3 linked regions of the Homo sapiens genome follow. The protein of the gene in region 1 interacts with the protein of each later gene in a pairwise test. Each region holds a gene or a part of one and is shown on either strand. Other genes may lie near its edges.

Region 1 (7,030 bases):
TCAGGCGTGGTGGCTCATGCCTGTAATCCCAGCACTTTGGGAGGCTGAGTGGGGAGGACTGCTTGAGACCAGGAGTTCAAGGCCAGCCTGGCCAAAACAGTGAAACCCTGTTTCTACTAAAAATACAAAAAATTAGCTGAGCATGATGGCACACACCTGTAATCCCAGCTACTTGGGAGGCTGAAGCATGAGAATCGCTTGAACCCGGAGGCTGCAGTGAGCCAAGGTTGCACTACTGCATTCCAGCTTGGGCAACAGAGTGAAGGCTCTGCCTCAAAAAAAAAAAAAAAAAAGAATTAGGAGGCACTGAAGATGAACTGCTACATGAGTCTGGAGAAGAAGAGAAAAATATTTCTGCAGACATGGTCAGAAGAGCATTATAAACAAGGCAGAACCTAACTAGGTCTTGAAAAATGGGTAGAGCTTTGAAAGAAAAGATGCCAAACAAAACCCAAAAACAAAAACCACCTTATGTTTGGAAGAAAGTGCGCAAGCCAGTTTGGCTTGGGCAAAAGACTTGGGTACTTATACACTTATTCATAAAGAGAAGAAAGGCTTTAAAAAGGCAGTTGGTGCCAGCTATGTACGGCATATCTTAAACATAATAGGGAGCATAATAAATGGTCTGTGAATAATGGTGAGTGTCCTGAAGGACAGGCTAAAGAATATGATCTCTTTTTTTTTTTTGAGACAGGGTCTTGCTCTGTGGCCCAGGCTGGAGTGCAGTGGCATGGTGCAATCTCAGCTCACTGCAACCTCCATAACCTGGGCTCAGGTGATCCTCCCATCTCAGCCTCCCCAGCAGCTGCAATTACAGGTGTGGGCCACCACACCCAGCTATTTTTTCTTTCTTTCTTTTTTTTTTTAAGTAGACACAGGGTTTCTCCATGTTGCCCACGCTGGTCTCAAACTCTTGGGCTCAAGCAATCTGCTCCTCTCGGCCTCCCAAAGTGCTGGGATTACAGGCATGAGCCACTGAGCCCGGCCAGATCTTTTTTTCTTTTCTTTTCTTTTTTTTTTTTGAGACAAGGTCTTGCTTTGTTATACCCAGGCTGGAGTGCAGTGATGTGATAATGGCTTGCTGCAGCCTCAATCTCCCAGGCTCAAGTGAACCTCCCGCTTCAGCCTCCTGAGTAGCTGGGAGTATAGGCATGCACCACTACACTGGTTACTTTTTTATTTTTTGTAGAGACGGGGGTCTTAGTATTTTGCTCAGGTGGGTCTCAAACTCCTGAGATCAGGCGATCCTCCTGCCTCAGCCTCCCAAAGTGCCCAGCCCTGAACTTAATCTCAATAAGCAGTAAGAAAATACAAGTTTTGAGCAAATGAGGCAATTTAAAAAAATGGTGCTTCTGCATGATTATTCTAAGCACTGATATGTCACAAAGAATGAAAAGAAAGACATCATGATACAAAAGAGGGTCTCCTATGCACTAAGGCCCTTGTGGGAAAATAGGATAGGGAATACAGGCAGTTTCTGTTCTCAGTGAACTTCCAGATGAATATGTGTGTGTGTGGGAAGCTCTGAGACATGGGACAAGTATATTAAAAAATTTACAGTACAATGTGATACACTATAATAAATGCAACAAGGTTCTATTGAAACACAGAAAGGAGTTATTAACTCTGTTTGGGGGAGCTGTGCAAGGTGTCACTGTGGTATTTCAGCTGAATTCAATATGGGTAAGACTTCACCAGGTGTTAGGAGGGAGGAAGGCACCTAAAGCAAAAATAAAGAAATGAAAGAGCAGGATATGTTCAGGGGTCAATGAAGGGGAGTGCAGGAAAGGATGGTTAAGGTAGGTTGGGGCTGGATTATAGTAACAGATCAAAGCACGTTACCCCGTTGAAAGTTTACGTTTTATCCTTTTACGTGACACAGAGACTGGCAGATTTTTAAGTATAGAAATCGCATGATTATAATTGTGCCTTCGCTAATTCTAGTGCCACTCTGTAGGCCAAACTGGACCAAGTGAAAAATTGAAGCTAGAAAAAGGAAAATCAACAATATGTGATGAACAAGTGGATCTGGAAGGAAAGAAGGCAGCAAAAAAATGTAAATAGGCCGGGCAAGGTAGCTCATACCTGTAGTCCTAACACTTTGGGAGGCCAAGGTAGGATTGGTGGAGAACAGGAGTTTGAGACAGCCTGGGCAACATAGTGAGACCCGTCTCTATCCCCCTCCCCACCAAAAAAAAAAAAGTTTAAAAAAAATTAGCTGGGCATGCTGGCTTGCCCTGTGCTCCTAGCTACTTGGGAGGCTTGAGCCTGGGAGTGCAAGACCCTGTTTCTTTAACAAAAACAAAGAAAACAAGAAAAACTTATGTTTTGGCTAGCTTCATGCCTGTAATCCCAGCACTATGGGAGGCTGAGGCAGGAGGGTCACTTAAGCTCAGGAGTTTGAGACCAGCCTGGGCAACACGGCGAAAGCCCGTCTCTACTAAAAATACAAAAATTAGCTGGACATGCAGTCCCAGCTAGTCAGGAGGGTGAGGTGGGAGGATATTTTGAGCCGGAGGGTGGGGGATGGAGGTTGCAGTAAGCCGAGATGGGCCACTGCACTCCAGCCTGGGCGACAGAGCCAGACCCTGTCTCAAAAACAAACAAACAAATAAAATTTATGTTTTATAGCTGGTGGACAAGAAGACTGGTAATATCAAAGACCAAAAATTGAGAAGTCAAGATAAGTAGCTTAGTTTTAGATTGATTGGCAATACTGTATACACACAAATGGAAATGTCCACTGGGCAGGTAGAAATTAGGTGCTAAAGGAAATGAGGAAAAGAGGTCAGGAATAAAGACACAGATCTGGGAGTTGTTTGAATAAACAGGAAAGAGAGTGAGTAAGTGTACTTTCTCAAAATAGTAAATGCTGAGAATTGAACCATACATAGAAATTGAAGGAAGAAAAAGGTAACGTGATTCTGAAGGATAAAAAGTCCTGAAGAAAATGTCATTATATTTACTAAGAAATTATTGGTGACCTTTAGTATACATATACATATATAGAGAGAGAGATCGTGCAGTGGCACGATCTCAGCTCACTGCAACCTTTGCCTCCCAGGTTCAAGCGATTCTTGTGCCTCAGCCTCCCGAGTAGCTGAGATTACAGGTATGTGCCACTATGCCCTACTAATGTTTGTATTTTTTGTAGAGATGGGGATTCGCCATGTTGGCCAGGCTGGTCTTGAACTCCTGAGCTCAAGTGATTGGCCTGCCTCGGTCTTCCAAAGTGCTGGGATTACAGGTGTGAGCCACTGCACCCAGCCCTTCAGTACACTTTCAGTAGAGCTAATGACAAGAAAGGGGAATGAAAGTCAAATTATCAGGAAAAATAATAAAGAGAAAATAAGAATCTAAATGTCATAAACGAGACTGGATTAAAAAAGAAAAAAGGCCAGGTGTGGCGGCTCATGCCTGAAATCCCAGCACTTTGGGAGGCCGAGGCAGGTGGATCACGAGGTCGGGAGTTTGAACCAGTCTGGCCAACACAGTGAAACCCTGTCTCTACTAAAAATACAAAAAATTAGCTGGGTGTGGTGGCACGTGCTTGTAGTCCCAGCCACTTGGGAGGTTGAGGTGGGAGAATCAATTGAACTCAGGAGGTGGAGGTTGCAACAGTGAGCCGAGACCACGCCATTGCACTCCAGCTTGGGTGGCAGGGTGAGACTCTGTCTCAAAAAAAAAAAAAAAAAAAAAAAGTTGAAAGCTGGATGTGGTGGAACACACCTGTAGTCCCCCACTTTGGGAGCTTTGGGAGGCCGAGGCGAGCGGATCACTTGAGCCCAGGAGTTTGAGACCAGCCTGGGCAACGTGGTGAAACTCCATCTCCACAAAAAAAATACAAAAAATCAGCTAGGTGTGGTGGTGCACACCAGTAGTCCCAGCTACTCTGGAAGCTGAGGTGGGAGGATCACTTGAGCCTGGGAGGTTGAGGCTGTAGTGAGCCGTGACTGTGACCCTCCACTCCAGCCTGAGCAATGGAGTAAGACCCTGACTCAAAAAAAAAAAAAAAAAAGTAGTCTATTAATATACTTTTCTATATAAAAGCATTAAACCAAGAAGGATGGAAGAATATAAACCCATTTTATGATAGTGGAGTGGGGATGAGAAGATATGCCATTGGGGATGGTGGTCAAAGGGGATTTAATTTTATCTATGATGTTTCCATTTTTTACATATATCTGGAAATAAATATAATTGATGATGATTTTTAATTCTGGGCATTGGTCTGTAATTGTCAACATGGTGATGTGATTGAGAAAAAGAGGTCAACTGACAAAGAAAATGTGAAATTGTTTATACAGCATGCTCCTATCAGAGTATAGCTTCCTTGGTCTTCAAAGGGGTATACATCTGTGGATAACACTCTCACAGAGGCAGAATTCTAATTCACTATACCATTGTGGGAGGGGGCTGGAAGAATAGACCACTCTCTCTGCTCTTTCTGCCATCTGACCATTCTGGGGACATTCTGGCTACACTCCTTGCCTATTTACTAGATGCAAGTAAGTGATGCAAAACAACCTCAACAAATTAATGCGTGTTTATTTTAAGACGGGGGAAGCAGAAGTAGTTTCCAAAAGCATTTCTCAGTAGGTCCAGGCTTCAAATCAGAGGTCCATTCCTGCAGTTTGTTATAATATTCTTTGCATTGTTCTCTGTAAATTCACTCCTAACTTTGAGAAGTTTTAGAGAAAAATGAGAATGTCGGTGGTCAAAGAGAAAGTAATATATAACAACTTCTTATTAAAGAATTGAAGCAATGAAAGACAGAAGAGCTAACTAAGGTTCAAAAGGCCTGACATAAAGGGTTTGGGCTTATGAATGGTTATCATTTCAGGGAAATGATATTTGTGACACTGAAACATTCACGACACTAGAAAAATCACCCCCCTTTCCACCATTCTTGTTTCCCCACAACAACTTAAAAGGTTCAAATAATAAATTTACATAAAACACTTATAGTTTATAAAAACGAAAGGCAATCCAAAGAATATATATCCATATGGTCAGGAGTGGTGGCTCACCCCTGTAATCCCAGCACTTTGGGAAGCAGAGGTAGGTGGATCACCTGAGGTCAGGAGCTCGAGACCAGCCTGACCAACATAGAGATACCCAGTCTCTACTAAAAATACAAAATTAGCCAGGCGTGGTGGCACATGCCTGTAATCCCAGCTACTCCGGAAGCTAAGGCAGGAGAATCACGCGAACCCGAGAGGCGGAGGTTGTGGTGAACCGAGATCGCGCCACTGCCCTCCAGCAGCCTGGGCAACAAGAGCGAAATTCCATGAAAAAAAAAAAAATTCCATATATATATGTATGTATGTATATATATACGTATGTATATGTATTCTTTCCACCTACAAATATTACAGTAATCAAAGTTACCAATATAAACAAATAATAGCTAAACTAAAGTGAGTTATTTGCAAAGGACAAGGGAATTCAACTTCAGCTATTAAGAAGTTGCCACAGGCCAGGCACGGTGGCTCACGCCTGTAATCCCAGCACTGTGGGAGGTCAATTCCGGCAGATTACGACGTCAGGAGATCGAGACCATCCTGGCTAACACGGTGAAACCCCGTCTCTACTAAAAATACAAAAAAATTAGCTGGCCTTAGTGGCGGGTGCCTGTAGTCCCAGCCACTCGGGAGGCTGAGGCAGGAGAATGGCGTGAACCCAAGAGGCACAGTTTGCAGCGAGCCAAGATTGCGCCACTGCACTCCAGCCTGGGCGACTGAGCGAGACTCTGTCTCAAAAAAAAAAATAAAAAATAAATAAATAAATAAATAAAAGAAGTTGTCACCAGTTGGCCCAAGTGACAGAGTGAGACTTCGCCTCAAAAAAAAAAAAAAAAAAAAAAAAAGAAAAGTTGCCTCTAGTTTAAAAACCCTGAAAGATTAAATGGTATAAATTGAACATACCATTCATATTACAATTAAAATAGTCTTCACTTTGACAGTTTAGACAACACAAACACCCCTGGAATTGAAGCTCCATAAGGGCATTTTTGTTATGTTCAATTCACCACTATATACCAAGGGCCTAGAATAGTACTGGGCATATGAAGACACTCAGTATTTGTTAAATAAATTCAATAAGTGTAAATGTTTAATAATTGATTTACTGAAAAATAACATTTTTTTTTAAGACAGGGTCTTGCTCTGTTACCTGGGCTGTAGTACCCAGGGGCACAAACACAGCTCACTACAGCCACGACCCCCAAGGAATCCTTCCACCTCAGCTTCCTGAATATTTGGGACCACAGGCATGTGCCACCAGGCCTGGCCTAATTTTTAACATTTTTGTAAAGACTGAGTCTTGCCATGTTGCCCACACTGGTGTCTAACTCCTGGGCTCAAGCAATCCTCTCATCTCGGCCTCCCAAAGTGCTGGGATTACAGGCATGAGCTACTGTGCCTGGCCTAAATAAAATACGTAACTTAACCTAAAAGCAACAGAACAATATGTAACACACAGTTCCTTAGTCTTCACGAAGATAAAACCTGCATTAAAGAAATAAACAAATGAACAGTTATCTGAGCTAAATTCTGTCCCTCAAAAATTGCCACCAAAAACCAGGTTGGGGAGAAGCCAAATTCATGAAAAGAATTCTGGGTCCTAATAGGCTGACATATTTTAGTCTCTTGGCCCTGTTGGTATTCCTCAAGTGAACCATGTTGAGTATCTTTGTGTTCAACTTGCAGTAGGGCCAGCCCAGGTGAAGAAAGCTGTAAACATAAAGTAGATGGGGGAAAAATGGCCAAACTGGTTTACATTAGTCTTAAGTGCCTTCTATTTGGCTAACATAGAGTGTTTTGCTGTTTTATAGAGATGTATGTTTCATTTGCTGTAGCCCTGTGAAGTAGGGTTCTCATTTTATAAATGATAATATACATAGTGTCAGAATCTAAGTTCAAAGTCACATAGCTAGTAAGTGGCAAAATTCGAATTTCATACTTTCTATCTCTGAGCCCAAGCTTTACTCACTATACCCTACTATCTCTTATCATGAAAGATATCACTG
Region 2 (7,030 bases), on another chromosome or scaffold:
TAGATCTCTCTCTCTTTTTTTTTTAAAGGAAAAAATAGAAATCCAGATTTTGATATGGAATCTTAATTTATAAGTACAGGGAATTTTAGAAAATTCTGCATGATGTAGTACTGAGCTGGCCAAAGCAAACACTTCTCTTCCCAAGGAATCCGTTTGCAGCCTCTGCTTTACTGTGCAGGATATTTGCTGATCATGCCACTCTGGGGTCTCCCTGCAGTCCACAGGCCCTGCCAGCTTCCTGGAAACACCAGAAACAAGCTCTGGTGGCTGCTTGTAACTGCAAGCTGAGACTTTCTCTTTGGATTTCTCATCTTCCACATCCTGCTCTACTTGTTTGAAATCAAACTTACTTTATGCCTGAGAAAACAAAACAACACACTGGTCTTGTCTGCTGACCTCCCCAGTCTGCATGGGGTGGTAGCGCCTTCTGAGGGCTGCAGACTCGGCGCTCCTTTTGTGTCCATTGCTGGCTCAAGCTCTGCATCCTTCCTGACTGTGTTGTTCTCATAGCTCCCTTCATTCCTGCTCTTACTGCCATTTCCACAGGCAGGCCCTCACAGATGCCCTTCGTGGCTGTTCATTAACCTCTGAGTGGTCATGGGTTACAAGCGTTCCCAGGAGGTAGTGCCTGTCCTCTCTAGGTGAGGCTCAGCTATAGGAGCAGCTGGCCCAGGCCCTGGTATAGAGATCCTGATGCCTCTCACGTTATCACCAGAGCAGGAGGAGGGAGATTATGCTATTGTAGACGCTTAGGAATCTGGAGCTGCCTCTGTGTCCATCTGTCCCTGTCTCACTGTAAGACCTCAAGCAAGTCAGCAATCCTGTCTGGGTCTCCATTTCTCAATCTGTGCAATGAGGAGATTGATTAGATGAGGGGTGGCAAATAGGGTTCACTGCCACCTCCAGGCTATTGGAAGTGACTGCCTAAGGGCTGGGTCAGGAAAGATTTAGTGAGTAACCATGGCTTATTGGGAATGGGTGCTATCATTGATCAGTAATGTCTGTCTGGGCCCCAGGAGAGGGGAGGGCAGGCACATGTGAATGTAGTCACTGTCTCTGGGCTGGCAGGTCCTGGGCCTGGTCTCCTTGCCCTTCCTGGAGCATGACTTCTGCTCTGCGTTCCTTTGGCAGTCCTGGTGGAACCGAATGTCCAATCGGTTCCGAAAGCTCAAACTGATGCAGACGCTGCCCCGTGGGCTGTCCAGCAACCAGCCTTTGCCTTTCTCTGACGAGCCTGAGCCAGCTCTGGACTCCACAATGAGGGCTGCCCCCCAGGACAAGACAAGCCGCTCTGCACTCCCTGATGCGGCCCCTGTGACCAAAGACAATGGTGAGAAAAGTCTGCATGTGCAGTAGAATTTTTGGAATGGTCTGAGCCTGTACCCTCTGCCCTTCATCCTACCTCCTGGGTTGCTGTCAGGGGTAAGATGATGTTGGAATGGGACACTGGAGCATAGAGGCTGGTCTGGTGGAAAAGATACTTAGGCAGGGACACAACCACCAAGAGTGTGATAGAATGAGAAGGTGCTGGCCAGTGGCAAGAGGCCCAGGTTCCTGTCCCACACTCCCTGCTGAGGGACGACAGGGAGTCGTCCTCTCTCTTGCCTTTGATAGGTGGTTTTCCCCACCTCTGAAATGTGATTGGTCTATGACACTGAAAGCATCTTGAAATAAAATGAGTTACTGGGAGGGTGTGAGTAGTGAGCTCCCCGTCACTCAAGGTATTCAACAGCTTGGATAACTTTGTCAGTTTGCTGAAGGAGATTCCCATACTGACTGGAACATAGATAAGATCCCTTCTAACAGTCAGATTCCCCATGACCAGATTAGCTACTTTGGCACCACTGTCTGAGACAGACTATTGAGCTGGGGGCACCACTGTCTGACTCAGTACGGCAGTGGTTTATGGAAAAGCTGAAAACATGCTCCAATATACCTTTTAAATGCCTTCCTTCTATTAAAATATCGAATACCAATTATTATTAAATATTTAAGCACCCAGGAGAGTTGGTTTTCCAGGTTGAAGCCTGCCCCAGTCACTCATCCTTATGCTGTGGACACGTGGAGGGGTCATTTCAGGAAATTTCCATTTGTCTCTCAGGTCCTGGGAGCACAAGAGGAGAAAAGGAAGACACGTTATTGACAACCATGGTGAGTGTGGGGCTTTTCTAAAAGCATTTTAGGTCTCCGGCAATCATCAGTTGATTGATTTACAAGGAGGGATGTAGGTGTTTGTCTGTCTTTGTAGTGGTCACAGATAGGGTTGGTGATGAGAATGTGTAACAGTGGGCTTAGCTCTGGCACTGAGGAGTCAGAACAGATGCCAGCTCTAAACTGTGGAGAGGGCTGTGCTGGTGCTCACCCGCTGGGTGTCAGCCCTGGCCCTGTTCTCATGGAGGCAGGGGATTGAGGGTAGGAATTGATGGGCAGCATGAGAAATGAAGACTCACCATTTGGGCTGTGGAGAACCAGGGTGAGAGGAGTCAAAGAGGAGGCTATGTTTCCAGCTGGGGAGGCCTCAGTTTCCTCATCTGTAACTTAGAGATGTATTAGGATTAGGGTCAACTGTGAGTAACGGAAAATCCCCAAGTAACAATGGTGTAAATAAGACAGCAGCCTACTTCATTCAAGTAAACAAAGTCCAGAACTAGTATATGGCTCATTGGAGTTAGGGACTTGAGTCCTTTCTGCCTGTTGGTCCCCCATGTGTAGTTTCTGTTTCTCAGGTCACCTCTTGGTTCAAGATGGCTGCCAGAGCTCTGGCCCATGACGGCCTCATTCCAGCCAGCAGGAGAGAGGAGGGGAGAAGAGGTAGCCATGGGCACATGCCAGCTGTCTTTAAGGAAGTTTCTTGGGGCCACGCACAGTAGCTCATGCCTGTAATCCCAGCACTTTGGGAGGCGGAGGCAGGTGAATCACGTGAGGTCAGGAGTTTGAGACCAGCCTGGCCAACATGGTGAAACCTCATCTCTACTAAAAATACAAAAATTAGCTGGGCATGGTGGTGGGCGCCTGTAATACCAGATACTCGGGAGGCTGAGGCAGGAGAATTGCTTGAACCCGGGAGGTGGAGGTTGCAGTGAACCAAGCTCGTGCCATTGCTCTCCAGCCTGGGCAACAGAGCAAGATTCTGTCTTTAAAAAAAAAAAAAAAAAGGGTTTTTGGCAACTACTCTGCTTAAATCACAGTGGGGAAGCTGGGAAATGAAGTCTTTGTTCCAAGTGGTCCTGTGCCCATCTAAATGAACATTAGGGGTGTCATTTCTAAGATGTGAAAAGTAGATACTGGGGGACAGTTTGCAGTCTCTGACTTCGGGGATCCCTCATGGTTATGGTTTTTAAACAAGATCACTCCCAGGAAGTTCTTAGCATAGTGTCTGGCCCAGAATAAGCTCCGTGGTGTGAACTTGGATGTGTTACCTCCCCTCTCTGGGTTTCACGTTTGTTTCCTCTGACATGAGAGCTTAGTGGTTAAAGTTGGACTTGAGTCCCTTTAGCGCTAAGACCCTAATACTAGCCAGCAGAGGGCAGTATTGCTGAGGACAAGGGAGCAGAGGGGGCTCCCAGAAAAGGCATCAGCAGTGTCAGGAACTTTAGAGCCCAGCGAGGGGTCCTGACCCAATCTGCCCACGGCTCCCTGCCACCCCAACAGGTGTAAATTGATGGCTCGAACACTGACTGTGGGGGCTTGTGCTGCCTGACGTTTGATCATGTTATTAAATAGCAATAATTATTTTTGGTGTGAAGACAGAAATGCTATTTTAGAAATTTTGGAAGAAGCAGTAAAACATATAGAAGGAAAATAAATTCATCCCTGATCACACACCCAACTATAACCATGGTTGGCATTTTTATGGATATGTCTTTTGAGTATTTTTTGTAAGCAGTTTTTTAGCATGTATAAATATGATATGATGTTGTATATAATAATAGCAAATACCATAGCTTTTACTAAGTACCAGCTACTATTCATCGCACTTTGCATGTATCAGCTCATTTAATATTCCTGAGGTTGGCACTGTTAGTATCTTTCCCATATTGTGTTGAATCCAATTTATTTGTGATTTATGTGTTGTGACCATCTTTTCCATGTCATAAAACACCATGTAGCCACATCATATTTAATGGCTACATTAGAACATTCTAGTGTAGGAACGTGTCTCTTTATCCAAGACTGAACTGTCAGACTCTGGGATTTCTAGTTTTTTGTTATTTTAACAGCTCAGATGAATGTCCTTATACCTTCGTTTCCCCCACTTGCCTGATTATTTGCTCAGGATGAATACCTAGAAATGGAATTCCTGGGTCAAAGGTTGTGAATGTCATTGGCTTCCAGAAAGATAGCAACAATTTAGACTGTTACCCCAGGGAGGGAAAATACCCTTTTGTGGTGGTGGATTTGTCGCTGTGAGTTTCCAACTCAACCCCGTTTGCTGGATGAGCTTGTTGTGGTCTAGAGGGAAAGAGGGGACAGCACTTGTTTAGAGACTCAGAAAAGCAGGACAGAGCCAGCCTGGGAACCCCGGAGGTGTACTACTTCCCCAACTGCTCATGCCCTGTAGAGGGCGCCAGTGTGCCTGCCCCCCCATAATGGGTGGGGTGGCCCGGCTGCCCTGCTGATGGGCATGTGCAGCCATCAGTGTGGAGATGCCCGCCTGCTCGGCTCCCGAGGCGAGTTTAGCTGTGGGATGCCCGTTGCTGCAAAGCTCCATCTGGCACAAAGTTCACTATTTTTCTTAATTAAGGTGAGCTTGGTCTGTGAACACTTCCTTGAAGATCTAACAGTCATTACTGTGTAGATTTTATACTGACCCCCAAATCACATTTTCAAAATTAAAAATTAAATTACAATTAAATGTCAGCAGCAGGAGGCGTGGCTGGAGCAAGCTGGGATGTGGGGGGCTGGGGAAGAGAGTGGTGCTGAGCCCTAGCCCTTATCACCTCCTGCTTCCTTCTTCACTCCCAATGGCTGCTCATGCTGGTCTCCTTGCAGCACTGCACCCATGTCCTGCTCCTCTAGGTTCCAGGCCTTTCCATATTCTGGCCCCTCACTCAGTCTGGAATGCACCTCCTGGTCCTCACTGGCCCAGCTTAAACTGTCGTTCTCAGCTCGGTTCCCACAAAGGTGCCTTCACTGTGCAGCAGGGGCACCCCTCCTCTGTGTTCTCCCAGTTCCCCTGCCTCCCCCACAGCACACCAACATCATCTGCTTCTCCTTGGCGCTCTGTCTCCTCTGCCCCATTCTGATCTTGCTGCTGTGAGGAGAGATCCAGAAGAAGCCTGGTGTTGGCGCAGAGCAGACATGGGTGTTGTGCGGTTACTGGGAGGAGAGCTGTAGATGCCACATAGCTCCCGGCTTGGGTGGAGGGGTGGATGGTGGTGCCATGCCCCAAGAAGCAGGAAAAACATGGAGTCTTTCCTGCAGAGTTGGGAGCCCTCCTGGGGGCTTGTCTAACCCTCAGCCTGTCTTTTTCAGCTTCGAAACGGAGCTCCCCTCACCAGACTCCCGAGTGACAAGCTGAAAGCAGTCATCCCCCCATTCCTACCCCCTTCCAGTTTTGAGCTGTGGAGCTCTGATCGGTCCCGGACGCGTCACAACGGGAAGGCAGACCCCATGAAGACTGCGCTGCCCCAGAGAGCCAGCAGGGGCCACCCCGTGGGCGGCGGGGGCACAGACACTGTAAGTTGTCTTCTGACACACTTTTACACATCACTCACTGCTCACTGAGATCATGGTGTGTTCCAGGCAGCGGGACCTCAAACCGACGAATCCAGAGGGGTTGCAACTTTTTTTTTCTTTTGAATGGATGATATCCTTTTGTCTAATGAAGCCCTACAGAGCAACTCAGTATGGAAAATAGATTAAAATGTTGAGGTAGCAGGGAACATCTGTCCCCTCACTGGAACCCTAGATCTCCAAGGAGCACAGTTTGAAGACCTGATCCATCTAATCCAACCTTCCTTTTAGTAGATGAGGAAACTGGGACCCAGGGAGTGGGAGTAATAGCTGAAGATCACCAGCCAAGTGTGAGTGAACCATAATCAAGAGCAAACACTCAGCGGCAACTCTGTGTGCTACTGGTGTTTTCTTGTGCCCAAGAGTATGACTTCTATCCTTTTGACTGTAGTGATTTCTAACTTGGTGGCTCTTGGTCTGTTTCTGAAATTGACAGTCTCATCAGTGTGGAAGGTATCTGTGTGTAACCTGTATCTAGATGGTAGATGCAGCAAATGGGCAAGACGAAGGGATTCAGGACTGACCCTGTCGCCATGTGCTGGGTGATTGGAGAAACGTGTGGCCTCTATCTCTATACGATGGGGCTGACCCCAGCACTCACTGCTGCCTCCTAGGGCTATGATAGTATGAGATCACCTGCAGGAGACCAAGAGCCTGGCGCCTGGAGATGCTCTCAAAACAGGCAGGACAGGTTTGCATTTAGTCCACTATTCTCGATCAGGTAGGAACGGGGGAGTTGTAGAACCCATCCCTGAGACTTCTTCTATGGCTGTGTTTCCTTGAGAATTTAACCCTAGAGGGACAGAACATCAACTTGACTTGCTTCATTTGCTCAGTGAACATTAACTGAATCCCACTGCCATGTAGCCCAGTCAGCCCCATTCTGCCCTAGAAGAGGTGGTGGTCTGGGTGGCAAAGACACAGGCACAGAACATGAGGCAGGGAGCAGTGTTAGGAGTGTGGGAGCGCCAGAGAGGTGACCGTGTGTGGTAGGGCACTCGGGAGGCCTCCAGGAAGAGGCGACAGCTGAGCTGGGATTTGCAGGCTGTGGAAGAGTTTTCTCCCCAGTGGAGTGCAGGCAGCAGCGTCCCAGGTAGAGGGAGAGAGAACGTGAGCTATGGCCTTTGCAAGTGTGTTCTGTTTCGCTTACTCAGCAGAGGGGCCTCATTCTGGGCCCTGGGGATCGTGTCACTGTCCCTCCCTTAGGAGTGCCCACAGTGGGGGGCCAGGGCCCTGGGATCTGTCACTGTCTCTCCCTTAGGAGTGCCCACAGTAGAGGACCAACAAGAGGACC
Region 3 (6,174 bases), on another chromosome or scaffold:
TCAAGCTATTCTCCTGCCTCAGCCTCCCAAGTAGCCGGGATTACAGGCGCCCACCACCACGCCGTTATTTTATTTTTAGTAGATACGGGGTTTCACCATGTTGGCCAGGCTGGTCTCAAGCTCCTGACGTGATCCACCTGCCCAAAGTACTGGGATTACAGGCGTAAGCCACTGTGCCTGGCCCATCTTTATGCATGACAGTACTTTTCACAGACATGTTTCTTTGATAATCAGAAACTATCTGCACCTCTTAAGGCTTGTCACATTTTATATGATATGCTTTTCTATTTATTATCTCCCTTATTACATATGCCCTTTGAAGATATATACCTCATCTGCCATCCTTCTTGGCATATGAAAGGCACACAATAATTATCTGCTTAATGCTGGTTTTTAAACTCTATGTCAGGTTTACCTTTATGATTTTATGGTTCCTGAGATGTATTTAGTTTAAAACAATTAATTTGTGACAAGCAATTTGCCTCAGAGATAAAGATATGAGAAACACCTATAAAAAAAGCCAAAACCAATGAAGAATGATTAATGATTTATTTAAAAGTAGTTTTCTCAAACTCTCTGGGATAGAAAGAGCAGGGTCCTGTTATACATTTTACTCAGGTGGTGGTTCTGGATATATGTTTCAAAATAGCTAGCACCTAAGTTTCTTTGAGAAAGCTAGGATAAAAATACAAGCATAACCAAGTTAATTCAATACACACTTATTAAATGCCTATGTGCTACAGGTACTGTATACTAGGTACTGTGTGCTACGTGCTGGGGACACAAACACAATTGCAACACTGTCCCTACTGTTAAAAAGTTCAGGATAGATGACTGGTAGGGAGAGAAGAAAGGACAAGGATGATAACCTTTCAGCTACCTTTGAACTAGACCTTTCAGGTAGAAACGCAGATCATGAACATTCTAGGAGGGAAGAACATTAGCAGACGGCAGTGGAAGCTTGCATTGCTACTGCTTATGAAACAAGGTTTGTGGACAGCTGAAGAGCAGCCTAGGGACACCAAGGCCAGGTAGTGAAAGGCCCTAATGGTAAGGAGACTGGAGAGAAGGTAGAAATCTCAGAGACATTTTAAAGTTACACTCAACAGGACTTGAAAAATGCAAGGAGAGGACTACTGAGTATCATTGCTTGATTAAGTTGGATGGGAATGTCATTAAATTATAACAGGATAAAAGAAATATGTTTTCATTGAGGTATGGAAACATAAAATTTTAATGTTGAATTGGCTATCTGCAGGATACAGCCATCTATATTAGGATCTTGTCTAATGACATATATTCACCCACATTAAGTCCCTGAAGGCCAGATACAGACATGAGAAGATATTTCCTACCTTAGTTGATAAACTTTCCTTATTATTTCCATAATCCACTTAACTGTAAAGGGCGTAGGGATTCCCACTTATGTATTTTGCATTATGCAGGCAAACATTAAAAATAAATCTTACAGGCAACTAAAAAAATGGTTGAAAGGGGCTCCCAACAGGACAGATAACCACAGTGGCTTTGAGCTTTGTTGTCCAAGTACACAAAACTCTTAGCTGTCTCACTTGCTTCTTCAATTTAGCTTATGTTTAATTTTGTTACGTGTTATGTTAGTGTGAAAATGAGTAAGAAATATAGGGAGGACATAAACAGAGTCACTTATCCAGGGTAGCTTAAACTAATGGAGAAAAGTCAAATCCTACTATGGAAAGTAGAAATTAAGGATTATAATAAAGGAAAAGGGCATCATCAAAGTACAAAAGATGGTTCATATATTTATCTAACCATCTACTAACATAGTTGTGTAGGACGGCAGGAACAGCTTGAGACATGATCGTTTTTATGGCAGAATGGCTGCCTCAATGAGGACTAAGGTGCTCCTGGGGCAAGCAGATCCCCTGCAGAAAAGCTTAGAATTACCAGCAGAGCATATTTAATTCCTCCTGTCAGGAATAACAGATGCTGAGATAGCCCCTTCTTGTGGTTATTTCTTTCCTCTTCTTGCAGCTTCAAGAGTCACTCATTTAAGTCATTAGTTGATCTGTTTGTATACTCCAGAAAGCATCCAGAAGTTCTTAGAGTATGCCCTTAATTGTACAACTTGAAGTTCAGGAACATCGGACTCACGATAACTCTAAGCAAGTGCCTGGGTCTCCATTTCCATCTTCACTGAAAACACTCAGTCTTTAGTTGGGACTTATTAAAACACTAAAACTAGCTACATATTACATAAAGGTGATGTGTTAAATAGATGGTTTAAGTGACTATCTTCATTCTGTTGCACTCATTTTGGAAATGGACATGTTCCTGTTTCTATAATCCTTTAAAATTCAGTCTTTTGTGAAGAGAAACTACTGTACAAATACTTTTACGTCATAAACCAAAAAGAGGTCTGGTATCTATCCCATTTAGTATTCAAGTCTACAGAAAAAATCCAATAACAACTGCTTTATTATTAAAAGTTATGAAATTCCATAAAGCAAAGTAATCTGCATTCAACTAACAAGTCTGATACATGTATTAAAAAATATATAACATAGATTTGTCTGTTTTAACATTTATATTCTATTTAAAAAGTAGTGACTTTACATATTTTGCAACTTGAGTTTATAAAATATATACATCCACCCTATTCAAATCCTCAAGCATGAGCTTTCATTCCTATTAATAAAATGCACACTCTGTAGTTCTGAATAATAAAAGGAAAATGGCACCAACTAAAACAAACAAATTCATTTTGACCTGAACATGCATTTAGTTTTTGGCTACTAATCAACCCAATAATCCATTTTACCTTGAACCTGACCACCAATTTGCCTTTACATAAACAATCTGTGGTTAACTATGAAAAGATGCATTTTCATGGTATCTGACACAATTTACCAAGTTCCTTATGGTAGATTTCAGGCTTTAAATTGTAAGTTTCAGGCTTCAAAAGAGGCAGGATTATTAAATCTTTCCATACACCAGAAAATCTGACAAGTGATGTCATTTTGAAATCATGCTTTTGCCTTTGAGAAAACAACTTAGAATTGTTGTAGGACCAATGAGAAAACAACTTAGAATCGTTGTAGGACCATCCTTTTCTCAAAACCCAGAGAGTGTATGTGCCAAGGACTAGAACAAGAATTGGATCTCTCCTTTTCCCAGTCAACTCCTCACTCACCATATTAAAACTGGAGTTCTTGAGGTATGTTAAGATAGATCAGCTTCTATTCAGGCATTCCTTCCACATACTCAAAATACCCTCAGATATTTTATTAACAAAAAATTTTTCATAAAAAAATAGTCATTTAATCATTCTAGAGACTCATCACAAAATACAAGTCACAATATTAACATATGAAAATTAAAATTACAATTAACATCTCACCAGGATCAAAGAACCCTAACTTCAACTTTCAGGATAGAGAGCTAAGTTTCAAGTACATGTCTAGATTCTATGTGCCTCTAATGATAATGATGTACATAAACCTGTCTTAAATCGGCAAACAGACGAGGCATGGTGGCTTGCACCTGTAATCCCAGCATTTTGGGAGGCTGAGGCAGGAGGAATGCTTGAGCCCAGGAATTCAAGATCAGCCTGGGCAACATGGTGAGACCTCGTGTCTTTAAAAAAAAAAAAAAAAAAAAAAAAAAAAAAAAAAATTCTATCCATCCAGGCATGGTGGCACACACCTGTAGACTCAGCTACCCGGGAGGCAGGAGGATTGCTTGAGCCAAGGTGGTCAAGGCTGCAATGACTGTTCCACTGCACACTCCAGCCTGGGCAACAGAGGAAGACCGTCTCAAAAAACAAAAAACAACCCACACACAATTTATGTTGAGAAAGCAAGTCTCCCACAAATTATTTTTAAAAAATGATTCCAGGCTGGGTGTGGTGGGTCATGCCTGTAATCGCAGCACTTTGGGAGGCTGAGGTGGGCAGATCACTTGAAGTCAGGAGTTCAACACCAGCCTGGCCAACACGGTGAAACCTTGTCTCTACTAAAAATTAGTCAGGTGTGGCAGCACATGCCTGTAATCCCAGCTACTCAAGAGGCTGAGGCAGGAGAATCGCTTAGACCCAGGAGGTGGAGATTGAAATGAGCCAAGATCGTGCACTGCACTAAAGCCCGGGTGACAGAGCAAGACTCCGTCTCAAAAATAAATAAATAAATAAATAATAAAAATAATCATTCCACATCTCAAAATGACTTAGAAATTTAAATGGAAAAAATAAATAATTTGCTTGGACAATAATTTGGCTTTGGGAGAGTCCTCATCCGAAAATAACAAAATTTCCTTAATATTAGTACTAAAGAACTAATTACAGCTAACAGCTCATTTACCAAGTAGTCAATTATTCAACAAATTTAGCCATCTACTGACAAACTGAAATTAGTATCAGAAACTCCATGTATTTTATTTGTAGGAGAGCATTTTAAATTTTTCAAAAATTCATGGCATAATTTTAATAATCGTCCTTCTGTAGAATCCCTAACCTCAGAAAAAAAAAAGAGAGAATAAATTAGAAGTGAGAAAAGGAAACTGCGGAAGACTGACACATTGGACATCAGTGGGAAGAGGCAGAAAAATAGGAAGAAAAATAAAGGACAGATTTAAAACAATTTAAAAAGGACTACAAAGAGGATTGGGGCCAGTTGGTGCAGATTAAAAGACACCTTCTTCACAGACCTCAATCATGCACAGGCAGTAACGGCATTACTATAACACAGAACAGTATAGTAGCTGATTCTGATAATGAATCCTCAGAAAAGAAGAATATGGTTAAGCTTCAGTTCTTTTTGAAAAGCAATTTACATACACAATTACAAATAATTGTAAATTTTAAGCATTCAGCTAAGATATGTACAAAAAAATTAATGAAAGTGAGATCAAGAAATATAAGCAGCAGTAACCATAAAGGCTTAGAACTAGTGACACTGAATTCTTTATTTAAAAAAATTTTTGTAACACACAGTACCTCCTCTTCTCTTCTATTTTTAGGAAGAAGTTATAACAAGTTTTAAATATCTCAATTCTGAAAAACAATAGGCTTTTAAAAAATAAGACTTGATTACCAGAAACAAGTAATATGTAGTTACATAACCATTTTCATATCACTACTCATTTCCATTATTTACCAATTCATCTTTGATGCAACTTGGAAACAATTAAGCAGTCACTAGACACCTGTTTTAGAATCTGAAGAAATTATTATCCACCACAGGAATCTAATGATATATATATTTGCATATATTTAAAATTTCATGAGGGAAAAGGTAATAAACTATTCTAGTTATTTTATACCAAATATTGATATTCCTAGTCAAAACAACAAGGAATTAAGATCTTTCTCCAGGTGAACTGCTGACTATATAGAAGCTATTTCCAGCACTTTCTTCTGGGGATTAAAAATGATTTATTTCCCTGCTGGCTAAAATGATAAATTATATATTACAAGTAAGTCCTTCAGAAGTGAATATTAATTCCTTAAGAGAACCATAAAATGTATTTTTAAAAAATTCTCTTAAAAACTGAAAACAATCCTTCTCTCTAAACCTATGGCATTAATCCCTACTTGACCAAAGAAAAAAAAAAAAAAGAAGGGCATCATGTTCATGATCTAAGCATGCATAAATAAGGAAGCAAATGTATCACTGTCTTAATAGAATTTGGCAAACCAGAAGAATGGCCTAAAAATAAATAAATAAATAAATAAAAGAAGAAGAGTGTACCTTATCTTCTAAGTATGAAAGTCTAATTCTGTAGGCCTATGTCGCAAATAGTGCCCCACGAGGAAATGCAGGGAGGAGGCAAGTAGCATATTCCTATATACATTTTCTTGATATTCTGGTTGTCTTTCAACAATGCATTACAGAGAAATATTCTTTTTATTATTACAAGCCATTAATTGCTCTCTGTAGAGCAATGACTCAGATAAATGCCTTATGACTTTTAATAATGTAACTAACATATAAATTAAATCTAAGTGCAAGGAGTTTTCAATGATTCCTAAATTCAAGAGAGTGTTGTTAGCCTGATTATGAATTTTAAATGTCTGTGCTCCTATATTTTAGGATATTTCATCTTATTTTCTACTCTTTAAACCATAAGATGTACCGAAATTATTTCATTTTCCTCTACTTTCCTCTGTGTCATTTTAGTTTACTTTATGGTATTTAT

What was found.
Region 2: the proteins of MARCHF5 (region 1) and ANKS6 interact in binary tests that used the Homo sapiens proteins (3 or more experiments, as listed by UniProt).
Region 3: the proteins of MARCHF5 (region 1) and UBE2W interact in binary tests that used the Homo sapiens proteins (3 or more experiments, as listed by UniProt).

What each region holds. Positions count from the first base shown.
Region 1 is NC_000010.11:92,294,155-92,301,184, reverse strand, and holds part of MARCHF5 (E3 ubiquitin-protein ligase MARCHF5), read right to left. Parts: intron 1-7,030. UniProt on the Homo sapiens protein: Mitochondrial E3 ubiquitin-protein ligase that plays a crucial role in the control of mitochondrial morphology by acting as a positive regulator of mitochondrial fission and as an important regulator of immune response.
Region 2 is NC_000009.12:98,772,526-98,779,555, reverse strand, and holds part of ANKS6 (ankyrin repeat and SAM domain-containing protein 6), read left to right. Parts: intron 1-1,131; coding exon 1,132-1,330; intron 1,331-2,101; coding exon 2,102-2,151; intron 2,152-5,475; coding exon 5,476-5,679; intron 5,680-7,030.
Region 3 is NC_000008.11:73,785,689-73,791,862, forward strand, and holds the end of UBE2W (ubiquitin-conjugating enzyme E2 W), read right to left. Parts: 3' UTR 531-6,174; downstream 1-530. UniProt on the Homo sapiens protein: Accepts ubiquitin from the E1 complex and catalyzes its covalent attachment to other proteins.